4 separate regions of the Homo sapiens genome follow, and regions 2, 3 and 4 are each linked to region 1. Evidence: fine-mapped expression QTL. A gene starts in region 1. Each other region holds a variant in brackets. All regions are shown on one strand. Distances are from middle to middle.

The links. PIP is the estimated chance that this variant, and not a neighbour inherited with it, causes the effect. A credible set is the group of variants that fine-mapping cannot tell apart.
Region 2: its variant is the best candidate, but not a certain one, in a credible set for the expression of RREB1 in whole blood (INTERVAL, PIP 0.55).
Region 3: its variant is the best candidate, but not a certain one, in a credible set for the expression of RREB1 in monocytes (Kim-Hellmuth 2017, PIP 0.58).
Region 4: its variant is the best candidate, but not a certain one, in a credible set for the expression of RREB1 in blood mononuclear cells (TOPMed, PIP 0.51).

What each region holds. Positions count from the first base shown.
Region 1 is chr6:7,105,695-7,110,839 of GRCh38, forward strand. RREB1 (ras responsive element binding protein 1) reads left to right here and starts at 2,267. Exons shown (of 13, transcript NM_001003699.4): 1 at 2,267-2,366. RefSeq lists an enhancer at 1,076-1,135 and silencers at 1,486-1,965, 2,026-2,245, 3,036-3,525, 3,546-3,635.
Region 2 is chr6:7,156,556-7,161,700 of GRCh38, forward strand. The region is part of intron 1 of RREB1 (ras responsive element binding protein 1); the gene reads left to right. Among named protein-coding and RNA genes, the nearest start is that of RREB1, 51 kb to the left of the region's middle. RefSeq lists enhancers at 1-558, 3,941-4,902, 4,521-4,815. The variant C/CT (reference allele first, on the strand shown) is at 2,310.
Region 3 is chr6:7,255,763-7,260,907 of GRCh38, forward strand. No RefSeq gene overlaps it. Among named protein-coding and RNA genes, the nearest start is that of SSR1, 55 kb to the right of the region's middle. RefSeq lists an enhancer at 2,620-3,119. The variant T/C (reference allele first, on the strand shown) is at 2,528.
Region 4 is chr6:7,244,479-7,249,623 of GRCh38, forward strand. RREB1 (ras responsive element binding protein 1) reads left to right here. Exons shown (of 13, transcript NM_001003699.4): 12 at 1,946-2,743; 13 at 4,033-5,145. The coding sequence ends at 4,490. Among named protein-coding and RNA genes, the nearest start is that of SSR1, 66 kb to the right of the region's middle. The variant T/C (reference allele first, on the strand shown) is at 2,537.

The DNA of each region.
Region 1 (5,145 bases):
GATTTGCTAAATTATGCATAAAATTCCAATTTTGATATTTTTCCTATTCAAAACTTATCCCTGAATGGGGAGACCAGGAAAGGCTAGCTCCTGAATCAGAGACAAAGTGAGTAAATAAAGTAGCATTCCCCACAGGGCCCTTCCTCTGCCCTCATTGGAACACATTACAACTTAGAAACACAAGACACCTATTCTATGATGGCAATGTGAACTATTATTCCTGTCTAGAGACCTGCCCATCTCCTCCACGACTGGCCTGTCTTCAAAAAAGCATTTGATAATACATTTGGGGGCGGCGGGGTTGGGGGAGGCTCAGAAAAATGCAACCGCTAAAATTTCTCTGGATGGAGTTTTCTTCAGTAAACAGTAGACCCTGGGAAACATAACAGGTTCCGAAAACTTAATTTTGATGACTGAAAGTCAGAGAAACAGCCAGCTGAATCAGCTCCTTCTTGGGCAGTGGTTTAGCCTACTTATCTCATATCAGACCTAAGGGTCCAGCTGCTTTTCCTTGGTTCTAAAGAGTTCTATTCTGGCCAGGACCCATCCCGAGACAGACACTTCTGTCTGCAGCCCTGAAAACTAGAGGTCAATGGAAGGGCTCAAATTAAAGGCCCACAGTTGGGCTTACAACTCTCCATGGTGTTCAAGCCTTCTCAGAGGAGCTGGTGTGGTGGAGCCAGGGTCAAAGGTCATAGTAAATAGAAAGTAGCCAGCTTTCTGCCTGCATAACATCATCTTGCCTAACCAGACTCAAACGCTTAATTCTACTGTAGTATTCTTTGGACATTCTTCTTTAGAACTACGGGGGCGGGGGGGGGGGGGCGTGTTTATTTTCAACAACCACAATCATCCTTATCTTTCTGAAGATGTTTCCAAAGGCTGAGAACAGACCCCTTTCAGAACCTCGGTAGGAGAAGTATTAACAGTTGGAAACATGTCAGCTGCTTTATGGAGGAAGCACAGCCCAGGCCTGGTTTCTCTGGGCTCCGTGATAACTTGGGGCAAGGCAGCCAGTGCGAAGCGTGGTGGCAGGAGCTGGAGAGATGGAGAGCGGCTCGGAGAAGGGCCCCTGCTTTTCAGAGTTGAAACAGGAGCCCTCTGAGAGAAAGAGATACTGCGTGTGGCTTCTCTGAAGCCTTGGAGGGCGACGTGGATGACACAGCATCAGCCATTCCATCGCGGGGTGGGGACACAGTGGCGGCAGGAACCGTCCTCAGCCCCTGGCGGCCACGGCAGTTCCCCGCTGAAGCATCCTTTGTGGGGTGTGGGTAAGGGAGGGGGACCAAAGTCGGGTCGGAGTTGAGTTTGTTAGACGGCGAGCACACTCAGGGCGGCAGCCCGAGTAAGAAGGATGGCCCCGGGAGAGAAACGGCTCGAAGCTAGGGGCGGGGTGAAGCGCCTGCTCCTTAATCTCCTGCCCCATCATCCACTCGCCCCACCTGGATGCAGAGCGAGGACCGCGTGGAAAGGAAACGGCGCGGGCGGGGCTCCCCCTCGCAGATGCCTCGGAGACCCAGAGGGGCGGCGTCAGGCCAGGGCCCCGAGCCCTACGCCCCCCATCCCCCCAACTCCAGCGCCTCTGAGGTGCCCCTCTCGCAATTCCGAGGCATCACCGTGTCTCCCCCGCCTCCGTTAAAATAGTGAAACTGCGGAGTGAAGTGATGGAAAGCCGGGGGCGGGGAGTCGCCCGCGGCGAGGGGCTGCAGGGGAGGGGGCGCGGTGGCCGAATAAGGTGGCCCGCGAGCAACGGGACGATTGGGATCGCAGCCAGTCGCGGCCTCCCGGACCCTTCCCCTCGGGCAGCCCGGCCCTCCCATGGCCCGGGGCGCCTTGGGAGGGCGTAGGGCAAACCTGGGGCTGCGGTGGGGGGTGGGGAGGGGACTCCACCTCCATCCATCCCGGGATGGCAACTGCGGTCACCCTGCTAAAGTCGGGGCGGGGGCGGCGGTCCTCCCCCTCACCCCCCCCAGTCCGAGCGCCGCCGCCGCCGCCGCCGCCGCCGCCGCGGCCGCTCAGTAACACGTCCCCAGGAGACTCGCAGGAGCAACACGTGATGTGTCTACTTATCAGGGTGAGAGGGGGAGAGCGAGACTCCGAGCGTGCGGGCGAGGAAGCTGGGCGGGGGGCCGAGACGGGGGCCGGGACGACGGCTGGGGCGCCGGGGTCGCCAGCTCCTCGCCCACCTCCCTCCCTGTGGGAGAAGAGGAGGAGGGGAAGTGACTGCGGAGTTGATGAACTTTGCACATCCAGAAACGCCATTTTGATTCCTTTTCCGGAACAAGTTTGCATCTCTCCTCGGTCTCTCCCTGAAGCCCACCGGTCCCCAACGCATCATGCCAGGGAGCCAAGCGTCCTGCCCGGCCGTAAGTACGTGCCCCGGATTCCGACTCGCGGTACGCCGGCGGCAGCGAGAAGTCTGGGGCACAGCCGGAGCGACCTTTTAAAGAACTTTGGGGATGGGGAGGGTGAAGTCTGCAGAGCGCGTTGTACTTTTGAAACTCGGTGTGTCCCGGAGCCGGGGACCCGCACGCCCCACTCCGCGCAGCGTGCGCTCGGGCCGGCGGGGCGGCCAGGGATGAGCGGGGCAGCCCTCTCCCCTCGGGCTGCGCGCCGGGCCATTCCTCCTCCTCCTCCTCCTCCTCCCCTTCCTCCGCTCTTTTCCCTTTCCCGAGCCGCCGGCTCTGCCAACCAGCTCCCAGCGCGAGCCGCCGCAGCGCCCCGCCAGCAGGACCTGATGCGCATCCATATTAGCCGTCCGAGCGCAGGAATCCGGCCCGACCCGCGCCGCCGAGTTTATTTTTAACCAGCACCGCCGGGACTCGGATGGTGCGCGCACCGCCGGCCAGAAACATCTTCCCAGCGCTGCTCTCCATCTTCCGCCCTCTCTCCCTCGACATCCTCCCCCCCATGTGGGAGGGGAAACTTTTCTCCTACATACTTTCGAGTCCTTCTCGGGCCGGGAAGCGCGGAGATGACGGCGCCCGCCCTCCCGCCGCCGCCCTAAGGTATCCGGGGGTGCCTGCCCGGGGTGCTCGCGCGGGGGTGCCTGCTCGGGGCTGCTCGGTGGGAGCATCCGCCGCGCCCTGCTCTGCGGACTTTGAACCTCCCGGGCGGACGGCGCCGGCCGGGAGGGGGCCGCGGGCAGCCCCGCGCCCTCGCGGGTTCCCGGCTGGCGGTCGTGGTCACGCCGACCACCGCCCCGGGGGGCCTGGGGAGGAGGGGACCGGGCCCTAGCCGTGCGGGCACGTATTGTTCCCTCGCCCTTCCGTTGGCGGGGTGAGTGTTTTCGTGGGAGCCCTCGGTGTGGAGCTAGCCTGCCTCGCGGGCGGGGGGGGTGGGGGGCTCGGCGCCGTCACGAGCACAGGAAGGAGGCCGGGAGCATCCGAGGCGGGGCCGGCCGCCGGGGCCCGCTCCGCCGCCCAGCTGTGGAGCGCGCTCGGAAACTTTTGTCCGCCGCCCGCTGGACCAGTTTTTCACGAGTTCTGGGGCTTCCCTTCCTCCTCCCATCCCGGCCCCCGGCGTCTAGCTGGGTGGGGGGAGGGGGCCTGTTGCTGCCCCCCCCGCCCCCAACTTCCCGCACAAGCCTTGGGCCGGGCCCCCCGCGCCCCCTCCCCGCTCGCGGTCTCTTAGGAAACTGCGACCTTAATGGTTGCTAAGGAGCAGGGGAGGTCCTTCCCGTCGCCGACCCCCTCCCTGGGAAGCGGCGTGTTTTCTGGACCGGGCCAAGGGCGCGTCGAGGATGTGACCTGCTCCGCGGCCGCGCGTGAGTGCGGGGCGCGTCGGCCGAGCCCACCGATGGGCGAGGCCACCTTTCTCTCCGGGCGGGGCGGGGAGCTGGGGGACGCGGGGACCCCACGGGGTGCGGGCCCGGGCCGCTTGACAGGCGCCGCGTGCAGCTCGCGCCCCTCGGCCGCCGTGCATCCGTGATGGGTTATAAAAGAGGAGGAAAGTATTTCTCCTTGCTCAGCAGATTTGCCCTCCCTCGCTCCTTACTGGTTAGGAGATAGAACGTGAGCCCAGATCCGGACGAGCAGTTCACATTCCATTACGAAATTCTACACGGCTTCAGAGCCAGCAGCAGCACACATTCGGGGCACTTTGGAGGGGTTTTCTTCGTTTGAGGATGCTCCTGCTGCTGCTGCTTGTGATGGTGGTGGATGTGGAGAGAGACAAAAGGGTGAATAAAAAAATATAACGTTTTGGTATGTTGAAAAACCTGTCCGGGGGTTTTCATTAGTAGAAAATTGAACCCTCTTAGAGTTTAGATTTAAGCTTAGCTCTTTAAAAGCCAGTGGAAATAAAGTTTGCCTGTTGAATGGTGTTGCTGGAAATAGCGAGGAATTTCTGTCTTAAGAAGAAATGATTTCTGCAAAGGCAGAGTTGCTAGTGCATCTCCATTATTTTTGATATTTTTTTTCCCCTTTATATATGTAGTGGACCCTGCATGTGTGCGAGTTGATTCTGAAATAAGTTTAATTGAAGTGGAAGGTGGGGAAAAGAGAACTGCCAAGAAAAGAATGTGGTTTAGTTTTGTTTTTTCACACCCATGAAAATCATCCTCTAGATTTGGTGCTTTTTCAAGTAGGCAGGTATAGTTTCTAAGACATATTTCAACCCGGAAGTCTGAGTTAGATAGAGGCCAAAGTGTTGGCTAAAACCTCTTTGAAAAACAAACGTTGAGTTTTGTGCTATCTTCAAGAGTCCACAGAACTTCTGAAGGAATGGGTTCGAGCTACTCTACAAGTAATTTATACAAAGACAGAATCACTAATTTTAGGGGTGGTGTGTGTGTGTGTGTGTATGTGTTTACCTCCGCCCTTTGGAGGGAGCCTTCTGGGTACCCGCTGATGGGTCCTGCTTTGATGTGCTTTGAGCTTTGGTTACACTGATGAATTAAACATTTGAATGGCTTTAATCAAGTTTTAAATGTGTTAAAAAAATACCTTTCCCCCATTTTTACAAAAGAAAAGGAGAGAAGAACTCTTTGATTTAGTTATTTGCTTAGCTTGTGCTCCATTTTAGGTTAATGAACTTGCATTGTCTTTGTCTTAAAAATACTGCTAAACTGGTTGCATTTTAGAATGTCTTGTTTTTAAAGAGGATTTGCTGGATGTGTAATACTCTTAAGAAATGCTGCCGATG
Region 2 (5,145 bases), 51 kb after region 1:
CTGAAAAAAATGTGAAAGCCATTTTGGGTTGGACATTTGTAAAACAAATTTTTTCTCCTTTTGGAGACCTGGTGCCCTTGGTATTTGTATATAGAATCCACTTGTTTATTCTTGAGGAGAGCAGCTATGTGTGTGAATTGGGCATCCGTTGGAAGAAACATAACAGGCTTGCCTGTAACAGCTGGAATATAGTTGCAGCCCTTTGAAATAAGACAATCTTAGTTTTCCTTCCTTCTCCTTAGCCAGCCATCCAGCGTAGGAAACAGGATGCTGTGTACGTACCCTGAGTAGGAGGAGAGGGTTCCAGAGTGCCACTTGGCTGCTCCTGTGTACCCATTCTTGTTCAAGAGCACCTTGAGATCACATGGTCTTAAATGCCAAAGCTGACCAAGAGCTGCCCCTCTGTTCAGCTTCGTCGTCCCTGGCTGTTGGGGAGGACTTTGTCTGTCTGACTGCCGCTGGGCTGCCTTGCCCCAGCTCCCTGGGGTCCTTTGCTCCGTAATCCATCAGCTCTTCTTTTCTCTTCTTCTTACTCATAGTATAAGACCCGACTGCCCATTTTTTGGAGATGACTAATTAATTAGTAAAATATTTGGCTGGGCGCGGTGGCTCACGTCTGAAATCCCAGCACTTTGGGATGCAGAGGCAGGCAGATGGCTTGAGTTCAGGAAGTTGGAGACCAGCCTAGGCAACATGGTGAAACCCTGTCTCTACCAAAAATACAAAAACTTAGCCAGGTGTGGTGGGGCGTGCCTGTAGTCCCAGCCACTTAGGAGGCTGAGGCACAAGAATTGCTTGAACCCGGGAGGTGGAGGTTGTAGTGAGCCAAGATCGTGCAGCTGCACTCCAGCCTGGGCAACAGAGTAAGACTCCATCTCAAAAAAAAAAAAAATTGAGTGCCTACTGTGTGCACATGTACCCTGTGTGACCATGGGCCAGGCACAGTGGTTCATGCCTGTAATCCCAGCACTTTGAGAGGCTGAAGCAGGTGGATTGCTCGAGCCCAGGAGTTCGAGACCAGCCTGGGCAACATAGTGAGACTCCGTCTCTCCAAAAAAAAAATAAAGTTAGCATGGTGTGGTGGTGCGCACCTGTGGTCCCAGCATTTGAGAAGCTGAGGTCGGAGGGTTGCTTGATCCTGGAAAGTCAGGGCTGCAGTGAGCCATACTCCAACCTGGGTGACAGAGCAAGACTCTGTCTGTCTCTTTGGGAAAAAAAAAAAATCCAACTTACGAGTTCTCTTGTGCTCCCTCTCCACTGTTCCTCTTTGCTCTTTCATCCCTCCTGACTCCAGAAGAGGGCTCTACCACTCGCTGCTAATGCCTTCACATTTGTCTGGATTCCTGCCTCCTGGGGACCTCATCCTTGCCAGCCCCTGTTGCTGTGCCTGTGCCCTACCAGGGGTGTTTTCATGTTCTCATCAGTGACCCTGCTTAGCCCTGAATATCATCAGCCGGCTCATGCCTGACTTCTCTGTGGAGGGATTCATCCCACGTGCATTCTTCAGGGTATGAATCCCACAGGACCAAGACCTTCTGGATCCCTTTCCATTTCTTCACATTCAAGAATCTCTGCAAAAGAATGTAGCCTAACCCCCCTAACAATCTAAAACTTCTTCCCAAGCACCATTTAGTGCCCCAGGACACTTGCCTGTGGCCAGAGCGACTCTCTTCCTTTCTGCCCTTTCCATTGTCTACCCCACCTGCCTCCCCTTTGAAAGTTGTTCAGGTTTAACTTTCCCTCCCTATTCCCTTTGTTCCCGTTTGTAGGCAGGTCTCCCTCCCCTGCAATCCCATACCATGTTCAAACAGGTTTTCTTAAAACTCTTACATCACTTTTCTCAGCCTACACCCCCTACTGCCCCAGACCCAACCCCAACTCTCCCACCTCCTGTAATTTGCCCACTCCACACACACCCTCTGTAATGAGGCCCCTGCCCTTCAGCAGGACCTGGCTCCTGGGCTTCTTGTGGTACTTCCTGGGTATCAGCTCCCTCCAGCCTCCACCTCCATACCCTTCCTCTTACACTACCCCAGTCCACTAATCTCTGCTTTTTCTAGACCTAAAATTAGAATTGTATAGACAGCACTTAATTCTCTTACCTTCCCAAGCTTTCTTTTACCTCTTACCAAGTGGTAAGCTTATGGAGTTCCCCACCCCAACCTAGTAGTGGATCAGGAGTTACTAATTGAAGTAGCTGACATACATTTTTATCATCAAGAAATATTTGAGGGCCTAAAGTAGAGTATTTCACCCCCAAATCATTTGAAGGTAGATTGTGGGTCCCATTTGTTTATTTTTTTCAGACT[C/CT]TTTTTTTTTTAAACCTTGATAGCTTAAAGGCCAGGAAAAAACTGATTAGTTTTCATCTTCAAAGGACACAGGATAAAAGAAGGACTGAGCCAGCTCACCCCTACCCTCCAAACACCTTTAAATCACAGTCACTTTTCCCACTCCCCTGGTTGTGACTTTTGAATTTTATAGTTGATATAATCCCTCCTTTTATAGCCGATTTATGCACTGCAATTTAAGTAAGCAGAAATGTTCAGTGCATAGGGGGACTCAGATTTAATGATTGTTGACTTAAATTTAAAAGGATCACTAAGGCCCCTGTACCTCTTACTTATTGCAAAACAAACATTCTCCGTAAGACCACCCTCTATTCTGTGACCCCTTTGAGGTTCCTAGGAATTGATAGGTTGTGGGCCATGTTTACACCCACAGGAGGACTTCTTTACAGAAAACCTCCCCAGCATCTTTGATGGCCTAGATGTGTTCACAGTCACACTGAGAAAGTTTTAACCTGATAGTCATCATTCAGAAACTAACTCGAATCCCAACATCATTCCTGGAATAACGGGACAGCCGCATAGATGGGGCTCACAAGGATGTCTCCCCTCTCGTTCCTTTCCAGAGGATGAGTTCTGTTTTAAAATTATAACTGTTTATTACAGGCACTGGGCGGATTGCTTTAGGAATTGATTTAACGAATGTTCACTGGGTTATTGCCTTGTGTCAATAATGTTTTGAGTGAAATATCAAAACGCTGATGAGATGGTTTATCTCATCTCATCTTTACAAGAAAAGGGAAGGTTAGAGGATTTGGTGTTGCCAGTGTTTTTACTTATTGTTGGTGGCCTGCCTGAAACTGATGGCAGTAGTAAGTAAGGAAAAAGCCTGCCAGTCTCCTTAACTCTCCAAAAGTAGGATTAAATCTGCTGAGGGTCAGACCACTGCCGTAGTTCTGTCCTTTCCTGGAAATCATAGATTCTTTTGAAAGGCTGATCAAATTTATGGACTATTTTCCTAAAGCTGAATACTGTCTGCATTTTACATGTGGTTTCAAGGGTATGACTCTTGCACTTGTCTACAGAACAAGGCTTATCAACCTAAGCATGTCATCTGTTCAGCTCAGCTGGCCCATAGTTGGCTTGCAGTACCTGTTATAGATTGAGAGAAACAATGCCTACTGTGTGCCAGGCACTGAGCTACAGACTAAAGATACATAAATTGGGGGAGGGAGGGCAGGGTGCAATTAAGGACTGAAATTTGATCACTTTCTTTTTTGCATTTTTTTTTTTTAAATGAGACAGGTTTTCCCTCTGCCACCCAGGCTACTTGAGTTCAGTGGTACAATTATAGCTCACTACCAAGCCCAGCAAATTAAAAAAAATTTTTAGACACAGGGGTCTTGCTATATTGCCCAAGCTGGTCTCAAACTCCTGGCGTCACGAATAGTTGGGTCTTTCTGGTATATTTTCAAAAATTATGTTAAGTTTTTTTAAAAAAAAATAGTGACATCAAATTATACTTAAAAAAGCACTGTATTCTCATGATACATACGTTGTTTCAGATTGCCTTTTCTAGACTTTATCCATAAGTATAGCATAGAATCTTAAATGTGCCAGCTAGCTTTTTAAACTTGACCTAACTTTATAAACATTTTCCCATGTTTTCACACATTGACTTTTTTTTGAGACAGGGTCTCAGTTTGTCACCCAGGCTGGAATGCAGTGGTGTGATCACCGCTCACTGCAGCCTTGACCTCCTGAGCTCAAACAATCCTCCCGGTTCAGCTTCCTGAGTAGCTGGGATTACAGGCGCACAACACCACACCTGGATAACTTTTTTTTTTTCTTTTTTTTTTCTTTTTGAGACGGAGTCTCATTCTGTCACCAGGCTGAAGTACTGTGGTGCAATCTCAGCTCACTGCAACCTCCGACTCCCTGGTTCAAGCAATTCTCCTGCCTCAGCCTCCTGAGTAGCTGGGATTACAGGCACGCGCCACCATGCCCAGCTAATTTTTGTATTTTAGTAGAGATGGAGTTTCACTTTGTTGGCCAGGATGGTCTCCATCTCCTGACCTCGTGATCCACCCGCCTCAGCCTTCCAAAGTGCTGGGATTACAGGCGTGAGCCACTGCACCCGGCCCACATCTGGGTAACTTTTTGTGTTTTTTGTCTAGATAGAGTTTCGCCATGTTGCCCAGGCTGATCTCGAACTCTAGGGCCAAACCGATCCTCTCGCCTCGGCCTTGCAAAGTGCTGGGATTACAGGTGTGAGGCACAGTGTCCAGCCCACATTGACCTTTATGTTTGAGGTGGGACCAGGTTCAAGCAGGTTTAGGGTAGATGGGGCAGGGTGGGGATGACTCACCTGGGAGAGGTCAGCCTGCTTATGACACGTCCCTCTATTGTTGGTTTCATGGATTATTTCCCTCTATGAACTGAAACTCTAGTCAACACTAGGCAAAGTAAGTTACTTTGAGATCCACTAACTCCCCTCCCAAGCCTGCAGGTAAAACCATCCCAGATCACCTTTATTCCTGCTTTAGGGTTTAAAAACCCCAGGAGGCAAACAAATTAAAGACTGCAGATGTTCTTAGGATGGTTAGACTTGACACAGAAGAGAAAGAGGTACAACTGTTCATAGAGTTCAGTTTGACAATTAACATGTATATTAGTATGGTTGCCTGTGTTTGTGTTATGTTTCACTGTGTTTCATCTTCCTGTGCCTGGGATCCCCCATGCCCTCCTTTCCTATCTTTCTCAAAACCAGCTGTTTTTCCCCATCTGCTGCATTTTGGTTATAGATATTTATTTGTAGGTTTGCTTTAAAACAAAACTCCTCTAAATCCTACTTGATAAC
Region 3 (5,145 bases), 150 kb after region 1:
AAAAAATCCTTATTCCTTCAGAGCAGGGACGAGCATTGAAATGATTTGCCCAGGTCAGCTGGCTATTGAGTGCTTTTGTTGGGATGAAATTCTCCACCAGAAAAATCCTAAAACAGAAGTCCCCAAGAATGGGTGGTGTGTGTCGTCCACTGAAAAGGGAGTTACTGAAAACTAGGAATGCGTGGCCTCTAGGAAACATGGCACTGTTGTGATTTGGCACATAGATATTTGGCATACATATTCCCAGGGTCACTGAGTAAATTCCCAACTGTTCCAGTTCTCTTTTGCTGCATGACGAAGAACACCAAAACTTTGGGTCAGGATTCGGTGGGTTGGGCAGGGCTCTGCAGGGATGGCTCATCTGTCCTCCATGAGGCATCAGCTAGGGCAGAGCCTCCAAGACCATTTTTTCTCGCTCATATCAGGTGCCTCTGTGTGTACAACCCACCCACTCACCTACCCACTAAAAGAACCATTCTTTGGGTTGCTTGTTAAAAATTGCATTTCAGGCCGGGTGCAGTGGCTCACACCTGTAATCCCAGAACTTTGGGAGGCCAAGGTGGGCAGATCACCTGAGGTCAGGAGTTCAAGACCAGCCTGGCCAACATGGTGAAACTCCATCTCTACTAAAAATACAAAAATTAGGCTGGCATGGTGGCAGGTGTCTGTAATCCTAGCTACTCGGGAGGCTGAGGCGGGAGAATCACTTGAACATGGGAGGCAGATGTTACCATGAGCCAAGATCACGCCACTGCATTCCAGCCTGGGTGACAAGAGTGAGACTCTGTCTCAAAAAAAAAAAAAAAATTGCATTTCAGATCTACTAATTCAGGATCTCAGGAGGGAGGACCCAGCCATATACATTTTTAGCAAATTCCTAGAGAATTTGCTAAAGCCCAGAAAAGTTTGCAAACCAGGGCTCTGTTAAAGACTGTTCCAGATTCCTGCCCCTCAGTTGTACCTCTAGTTGCCCCTCAAGCTAACACCAAGGCAAATTGTTTGCAATGGAGCCATTGTTTGGTCTGGGGTAACTCTCTGATATCTAGGATATGTACTGGAAACTTCCTTCAAGCCTCCTGCCTGGCCTCTTTCCCTGCTTTTGCAGCCACTCCTCTACATACATTGGCACAGGTGCTCCCACCCAACTTTACCACCTACCCCCCAAAAGGGAACTTCTAAGAACCTGTGGCTGGGCTCGACCTTGGCACTGAGTCTAGGAGCAGTTGCCTCCACCTGGCTTACCTCCCTGAAGCTTTGGGTCCCTGGTCTCCTGATACGCACTTGTCAGGGCTGGCTCATAATGCTGGGATCCATATGGATAAATGAAAATGTGGGGCCCCACTCTGTCGCCTGGGCTGGAGTGCAATGGCACAATCTCAGCTCACTGCAAACTCCACCTCCTGGGTTCAAGCAGTTCTCGTGCTTCAGCCTCCTGAGTAGCTGGGACTGTAGGCATATGCCACCACAATTGGCTAATTTTTTTTGTATTTTTAGTAGAGACAAGGTTTTACCATGTTGCCCAGGCTGGTCTCGAACTTCTGGCTGCCTCAAGTGATCTGCCCTCTTGGTCTCCCAAAGTGCTGAGATTACAGACATGAGCCACTGTGCCCATCTTGTGTTTGTTTTTGTTTTGTTTTGTTTTTTGTTTTTTAAGAGACACGGTCTCACTCTGTCGCCCAGGGTGGAGTGTAGCGACGCAATCTGAGCTCACTGCAGCCTCAATCTCTCAGGCTCAAGTGATCCTCCTGCCTCAGCTTCTCGAGTAGCTAGGACCAAGGTGCACACCACCACACCCGGCTAATTTTTTTGTATGTTTTGTAGGATGGGGTTTCGCCATGTTGCCCAGGCTGGTCTCAAATTCCTGGGCTCAAGCAATCCTCCCACCGCGGCCTTCCAAGTGTTGGGATTACAGCGTGAGCCACTGTGCCCGGCCAATGGGCTCTCCAAGGCCACATTACCTTAGACATTGGGATACTTACATGCAGGTGTCCACAGGTGCCTGAGATCTCACATCCACCCGACCCTCTCTGCCTCCACACCCAGGCCTCCACCAGGAGCCAAGGGGGCCGCAATCACTAGGCAAGGGCAGGGGGTTGAGTGGCCAAGAGCCCGTCCCAGGGAGGCAGGAGAGAGAGGGAGGCAGGACCACATAGGAGCCAGGGCTCCCGGCAGCCAGTGCACACTCCATTGTCCCATCAGAGTTCACTGACGAATCTCAGTTCAAAGATAGTATCGTAAAGAGTTTCAAGATGGGGCCCTGGGAGCATTGAACTCCAAGCACAGGCCCTCGCAGGGGTCCCACTGCAGGAAGCCGGCCCTGCTGCTGACCCTGCCCACCTCCCTCAGCTCCTTGGTCCTGTCGGGTCTCCCTGCTGACCCCATGGCACTGCTCCACGCTCCTGTCTGTGGGGCCCCCGTCTGTCCCCACCTAGAATTCTGTTTCCATACCAAGGCCTAACCAATGGCCCCTGACCCCGTTCAGTGTTTTGAACCAGCCACTCCTGTTTTTGGCGGCCCTGCCCTCCCA[T/C]GAATCTCACGCCCACGGCTGCCCTCGGATCTGGACACAGTTGCACTTGTTATCTGGTATCAGCACTAGGGAGGCTCAGTCAAGCCAGCACTAACGGTGGGTTTGGTGTCCTTGGGACTTCTCCACCCAGGGCCTGTGCCAAGGCTGGTCCTCAGTGCTTGGTCAAGAGTGGCTCTGGCGGCTCTGGGGTGGTGGCCTCTGCAGCTCAGTGCCCCTGCCACCCATGCTCACTGGATGGGGGCAACACCCTTCCTCCCAGTTCAGGGTGGATGGGCCCCAGAGCACCACCCAGCCAGCCAAGCCTCCTTGCCCCTGCCCTGCCCTCCGAATGGCCCAGATCATACCTGCTGCCTTTCTTTCCTAGCTCACTGCCTCCACCCAAGTCACCTTCTGTCCTGACTCCCAAGGACTTGGGTCCCACTGGGGAAGTCGGGAGGAAATGGGAAGCCTTCCTGACTGTGAGTGAGGGCAGGAGGGGAGGTGGGGTCAGAGAGGGCACCTGGAGGGTGGCAGGAGAGAGCAGGAGAGCGTGAGAGAGGTGGCAGAGGAGGGGGTGCGAGTAAGAAGAGAACACCATCATTGTTTACCAAACCTGAATTACACCACACCAAGTTGTCCTGTTATTTATTTATTTACTCATTTATGTATTTTAGTGTGTTTAATTGAGGTTAAAAAAAGAAGCAAGAAAAGTGTTTGCAGATTGGCTTTATGGCGGTGAGCTTTGCAATGATCTCTGAAAAAGTCCGGGGAGTCCGGCAGGCAGATGAGAATCTAGGCTTGCTGGCGTATCCAGATGACTCGGAAGGAGGACCCCAGACGGGGAGGGGCAGTGCTGGGAGCAGGAGGCGTCCTGGTCAGGCTGTCCATCCATGTCTACCCAGCAAATATTTGCAGGCCCTGAGCTCAGCAGGGGAGGAAATCTCAGGCAAATGAGACACAGACTCTGCCCTCCAGCCGCTTCGGAGAAAACAGCCGAGAAGGACACTGTTAAATGGAGTGGCAAGCCCAGAGCATCAAGGGCATTTGGAGGTGGGGGGCACTGCTGCTTGGGGACATGTAGACAGAATTTATAGAACGAGGCCCCTGGAAGGATTTCTGCAGGTTGCAGCAGGGTGGAGGAGCGTCGCCGGCCCGGGGCCAGGAAGAAGCTCAGGGCACAGGGAAGCTGGCCACGGGGTGTCCCATCACATCAGAGTGGTGTGGGCTACGGCTGGAAGGGGAGGCAGGCCACTGGCTGACACGCCGCACAGCAGACCGTGAATAGACGCATGAGCGAGTCAGGGAGTCAGGAGAGCTCTGAACACTTGAGTTCATTTCCTGCTGGAGGTGGGAGCCGTTGAAGGTTCTTGAGGGCATCCGTGAATGCACCGGAACTGTGGTCTAGAAACGTCCTAGCAACAGTGTGAGACGGGGAGCCAGCAGAGAAATCATCAAACAGTCTAGGCAGAAGGTAACGAGGGCCAGATGTGGTGGTGTGCACCTGTAATCCCAGCTACTTGGGAGGCTGAGGCAGGAGGATCACTTGACCTCAGGAGTTCGAGACCAACCTGGACAATGTAGCAAGGCCCTTTCAAAGAAAAAAAAAAAAAGGAGTTGGGGAGAGAGAGAAAAGGTAATGAGGGTTTGAAGTGGGCTGGGGAGGAGAGGAGCACTGGAGAGATCGCATTTGGCAGTACTTGATTAACGAAGATTGCAATGGGGGCGCACTCAAGCTTTCAACATTGTCACCGGAAATTGGGGGAGGTGGTGCCATGAAGGATGCCGGGGAAGCCAGGTGGAGAAGTCAGTTTGATGGAACACAGAGATCATGGGTTCCTTCTTGTTGGAGGTGTCTATCAGAGGTCTTCAAGTGACAAAAATTCAACTCAGAGGCTGGGTGCATTGACTTATGCCTATAATCCCAACACTTTGGGAGGCAGAGACAGAGGCAGGACTTGAGTCCAGGAGTTCGAGACTACCCTGGGCAACAAAGTAAGACCCCCATCTCTACTATAAATAAATAAATAAATAACTCAGATCAGCCTCTACAAAAATGAGAATGGGTTAGCCCACATTGACAAAAAGTCCAGAAAGTGACTTTAGTTAGATGCACGTCCACCAAAGCTCATGTTCGAGCCCACCATGTCCCATCTCCTGGTTCTGCTTTCTTCCTCAGGGAGAGCACCTGCCAGGCAGCAGTGTCGCTCAGCTTATGCGCAGCCAGCTTGGGGACTACAGCAGCTCATCCTAACAAGAGACCAGAACTTCAGGCTGGTCTGAGGCATGTGCCCACCTCTGGGTCACACGTCATTCTTGAAGCAGTGGGCAAGTCAAATATCCCCACCCCTCCTGCACAGAAAAGGGGAGGATCCCAAGAAGAGAATGTGGGGGCTGCCTCCAGGAGGAGAAGAAAGACTTGTGGGTCCACTGCAGACATCCAGGTGGAGATGTCTGGAGCCCAGGGGTCGGGTAAGAGCTACAGCCAGGTTGGGGTTATTGTGGGAGGAGCCGTAGGAGTGAATGAGATCAGGAAAGGTGGCCGGGGTAGACCTAGGACCTAGGGACCTAGGAAAGAGACAGACACGCTGGGGAAGAAGCGTCAGAGGACAGAGGGTGAGACGCTTGAAAAGGAAGTGGGC
Region 4 (5,145 bases), 140 kb after region 1:
AATATCCATTCTATAGATGCTCTCTGTTGAAATGATTCAAGAAAAACGAACATCTAGTTTTTCCTTGGAATGTGGCCCAGACATTGGTGTGCATATCCCAGGACTCATATTCTTTAAGCTTTTGGATAATTTTGCAAAATCATTTCTTCTTTAAAATGTTATATTCACACCATAATATTTCTTTCTGAAACCTCTTGAGATACCCAAACAGTGGCTGCCAAAAAGTGCAGTCAGTGTAAAACTAATGAAATGAAATGATGTAAGTAGCCGCGTTATGCAGATGGCTGTGGGTAAAGCCTAAAGCCCCAAGCAGGTGTGAACAGTAGGTACTGTCTCCTCAGACCTCAGGACGGGGCAGAACCAGCTCCTTACCCCAGCCCTCCTGACCGCCTTGATGGCAAATCATCAAGCATGTGACATTGAGGAGGTGTGATGGATGCAGGTTGACATTGTAGTTACACCTGATCACGTCAAGTGAGAATCCAGGTTAGGTGCGTGAATCTGCTGGCTCAAGGACTGCAATCACATCTGGCCTATTGAGGGAGGGGCATCTCGTACTTGTGCCATAAAACAATGACTTTCATCCACCCAATTATCAGAGGAACTTGAATCCCTGCAGTAATAAATCAGACAGTGGCCGGGCACGGTGGCTCACGCCTGTAATCCCAGCACTTTGGGAGGCTGAGGTGGGTAGATCGCCTGAGGTCAGGAGTTCGAGACCAGCCTGGCGAACATGATGAAACCCCATCTCTACTAAAAATACAAAAATCAGCTGGGCGTGGTGGTGGGCGCCTGTAATCCCAGCTCTTGGGAGGCTGAGGCAGGAGAATTGCTTGAACCCGGGAGGTGGAGGTTGCAGTGAGTGGAGATCACACCATTGCACTCCAGCCTGGGCGACAAGGCGAAACTCCGTCTTGAAAAAATAATAAAAACTAAATCAGACATAGGATCTGCAGCTAAATAATAGGTCCCACCAGCTTCCAATGTACTGTCGTAATGCATAATTTTAAGAAGTTATTAAGTCTTCTTTCAACCTTAGTAAAGAGAAGGCCTTTTGACACTGTTTGATGTGAATATTGCAGCCGTGCCATCCCTTAAAAGGACTGTTGAAAACTGATAGGCTTTCCACATACAGTTTTACTGGGTGGAATGGACAGATAGGAACAAATCAAGAGGCAGGAAGTCAGGGTAGGTGAGATGCCTGGAACCCAGAACCCCTTGTCTTCACAGGCACCCACAGCCCTTCACAGTCCGCTCCCCTCACTGTGTGCTGTTGCCAAGCCTGGCATCAAGGGTGCCCTTCCTTTGAAAGATTCCACCACCCCTGGGAGGCTGACAGCTAGGAAGCCTACAAGCTTGCCTGCGCCCCCTTGGGTCTCTGCAGCCTCCACCTGGAGATGAGCGTCAGGCAAGAGTGTGCATACCATACACACACAACGCAGGCTTGGGGTCGTTTCCTGTGAAACTCATCAAGACCATGCTTTGGAGGATTAGGGGTAGGGGTGGTCCTGTGTATGTTGCATGTTTGTATGATCTCTTTGCACTGGAAAAATAACTTATAACTCAAGCTTCCTCAACTTCCCTAGCGCTGCGAGTCTCTGGAATGCACCCCTCTCCTATCTCGCAGCCCCTGTCTGCCCTGCCTGAGTCACTCACACCTTCCTGGGGGCGGGGGCAGTGGAAGCCAGGGGTTCAGGGGCACAGCCAGCCCTGGGAACACACCTGAGGTGATGTGGAGGCTGCTTTTGCCTTTCTTCACGTCCCCAGGGTCATCTTGGTCCTCCTGGGGGATGTAACAGGTGGTGAGGATTTGGGCCGAAAGAAGTCCTCACTGGTTTGGGGTTCAGGCTGCTGGCGTGGGTCTAGCCCATTCCCGGCGACATCCCTGGCATGGGCGTACCTGGTGGTGCCCCTCTGAGCCCTCCCCGCTGTGCTTGCCCCACAGACAGTCAGTCGGATGCGGAGACTGCAGCCGCCGCGGGCGAAGTGCTAGACCTCACCTCACGGGACAGAGAGCAGCCGTCGGAGGGCGCCACTGAGCTCCGCCAGGTCGCAGGGGATGCGCCTGTGGAGCAGGCCACGGCGGAAACGGCCTCGCCGGTGCACCGGGAAGAGCACGGGCGTGGGGAGAGCCATGAGCCGGAGGAGGAGCATGGCACTGAGGAGAGCACTGGGGACGCCGACGGCGCGGAAGAGGACGCGTCGAGCAACCAGAGCCTGGACCTGGACTTCGCCACCAAGCTCATGGACTTCAAGCTGGCGGAGGGCGACGGCGAGGCAGGCGCCGGGGGCGCGGCCTCGCAGGAGCAGAAGCTCGCCTGCGACACCTGTGGGAAGAGCTTCAAGTTCCTGGGCACCCTGAGCCGCCACCGGAAGGCGCACGGCCGCCAGGAGCCCAAGGACGAGAAGGGAGATGGCGCCAGCACTGCAGAGGAGGGGCCCCAGCCCGCCCCTGAACAGGAGGAGAAGCCCCCCGAGACCCCGGCAGAGGTGGTGGAGTCGGCCCCGGGTGCCGGGGAGGCCCCGGCGGAAAAGC[T/C]CGCGGAGGAGACGGAGGGCCCCTCCGACGGGGAGAGCGCGGCCGAGAAAAGGTCCTCAGAGAAGAGCGACGATGACAAGAAACCAAAGACAGACTCCCCCAAAAGCGTGGCCAGCAAGGCAGACAAGAGGAAGAAGGTCTGCAGCGTGTGCAACAAGCGGTTCTGGTCGCTGCAGGACCTGACCCGGCACATGCGCTCCCACACAGGTAACCAGGGCAGGCCAGGTCCCCGGCCCAACAAGAGGAGGCGAGCCGGGCACCTCTCCTAGGAGCTCCCCTGAAGCGGCGCTGGAGGCCACCGAGAGAACGTTTGCTTACGTTGCCGGTGTGCCCTTTAAGCCCGTGAACTAGGAGTTTTAAGGAGTTGTACTCTCAGCCCTTGAAGACGGTGCAGGCCTCCTGCAGCCAGGCAGGAGAGGGTCCTTGGCCGTTGTGTTTTTGAGAACGCTGTGATCCGCCTTTAGCTCTGCTGCCTCCGCCTCCCCATCTGTAGAGTGGGGGTAACAGCTGCCCTGTTTCATAGAGGTATCTAGGAGAGGGTGCTTGTGCTGGGCATTTGGGCCACTTAGTCCTGTCTAGTCCTGTGGCCTGGACGACAGGCACTGCCCCAGGCCGCTGTGGGGCAGGCACCCTGGGTGATCCATTAGGGTCAGGAGGGCCTTTTCCTTTCTTAGCCGTGCAGTTCGGCTGAGATGACTGGGACAGGACCCTTAGCCACTGCCCTTCACACCGTTCTAGAGTTCACCCACCACCTGCAGGGTGGAGGCTGCAGACCCCAGAGCAGGGGCGCTTACTTTGACACAAAGACCTGAATATGCTCATGGAGTCCAGAGATATATCCTTCTTCTTTCCAAAATAACCTGTCCCTCCTCTCAGCCGCAGCTTCCCTCCCTGTCACAGCTGCAGCCCGCAGTGAACACATGTGCCCCGACCCAGCGCAGTCGGCTCTGCCCTGCGCTTGCCCGTGTGAAGGGCCAGGGTCCTTGGCTCTCAGAAGAGGGATATTCTTGGGCTCCCAACAAGCGTGGTGGGCCCTGCCCTGGGCCTGGCGTGTGAGCCATCAGGAAAGCCCCCGCTGCACCACATCGCAATGCAGAGGGTAACTGGTGCCCCCGACCTAGGTGCTGCTGTCCATACAGATCCCTGAGAGGGTCCACTCCTGTCCCCCTCTAGATTCCTTCCCAGTCTCTGGTCGAGGCCAGTCTGCACATCTCCTGAGGCTTCTGCTTCTGGGACCTGGGTTTTCTGGATCAGTATGTAGAGTGCCTGGGCTGAGAGAGGAAGGAGAGGAAAGGTCTCAGACTGACAGCTTGAACCAGCAAACAGAGCTTGTCCGTCCTCAGTTTGCTGGTTCAAGGAAGAGGCCTCTGGCTGAGTAGGACGGAGTCCTGGCCCCCCGCACATAGCCTGGGAGCCTCATTCTTCCTGTGCAGAGCAGGGTGCAGTGGGTACTGGTGCCTTTTGGTTAATGGAAATTCTTTCTTCCATTGTTCCAGGGGAAAGGCCATACAAATGTCAGACCTGCGAGCGAACCTTCACCTTGAAGCACAGCCTGGTTCGCCACCAGCGGATCCACCAGAAAGCCAGGCATGCCAAACACCACGGGAAGGACAGCGACAAGGAAGAGCGGGGTGAGGAGGACAGCGAGAATGAGTCCACCCACAGCGGCAACAACGCCGTCTCAGAGAACGAGGCTGAGCTGGCTCCCAATGCCAGCAACCACATGGCTGTCACCCGGAGCCGGAAGGAGGGCTTGGCCAGTGCCACCAAGGACTGCAGCCACAGGGAGGAGAAGGTCACGGCAGGGTGGCCGTCTGAGCCTGGCCAGGGTGACCTTAACCCAGAGAGCCCGGCGGCCCTGGGGCAGGACCTGCTGGAGCCGCGCAGCAAGAGGCCTGCCCACCCAATCCTGGCCACAGCTGATGGCGCCTCCCAGCTCGTGGGGATGGAGTGACAGCCTCAGTCCCCCTCAGCACAGACAAAAGCCAGCAGAGCAAAGCGTCTATACTTCATGGGGTTTCCTCAGTGCCCTTTGGCTGTTGAGGAGTGAGAGAGAGAGAGAGAGAGAGAGAGAGAGAGAGAGAGAGAGACAAGCAGGAGCGTGGCTGCTCGCTCAGTGCCATAGCCTTACCGCAGCCTGCGCGGGAGGCCACAGCCCGTGCCGATTCCAGTGCCTTAACTACTTACCGGATCCCTCCATATTATCATGGGTGTTGTATTTTTCCAAAATGACTTCTTAAACAAAACAAATATTATAATGAATTGTCTGGAGAGGACCTCTTCATTTGAGCATTAGCGTTATTTTGTATTGGTGTGTGTGAGCTTGTTCTTGTGAATCTGTGATAGCACCGTTTGTTCTGTGAGCTGGAAACAGAAGGAAAAAACATACCCTTGGGTACCCATAGCCAATAACTGGAAGAAAATGATGTGAATTTCATGTAAATGACCAGAGGAAAGATGGATAAGATGATAATTTCTTAAATAGACATTTTCCTTTTTTCTTTGTGCTTCATGGTGGAGCTGTCATCTGGTCCTTGGTATTACAGGATGTGGTTGATGAAGGTTTCCAATATGGTTTCAGGCCAAAACCAGGGAAGATTCTAGCTTCA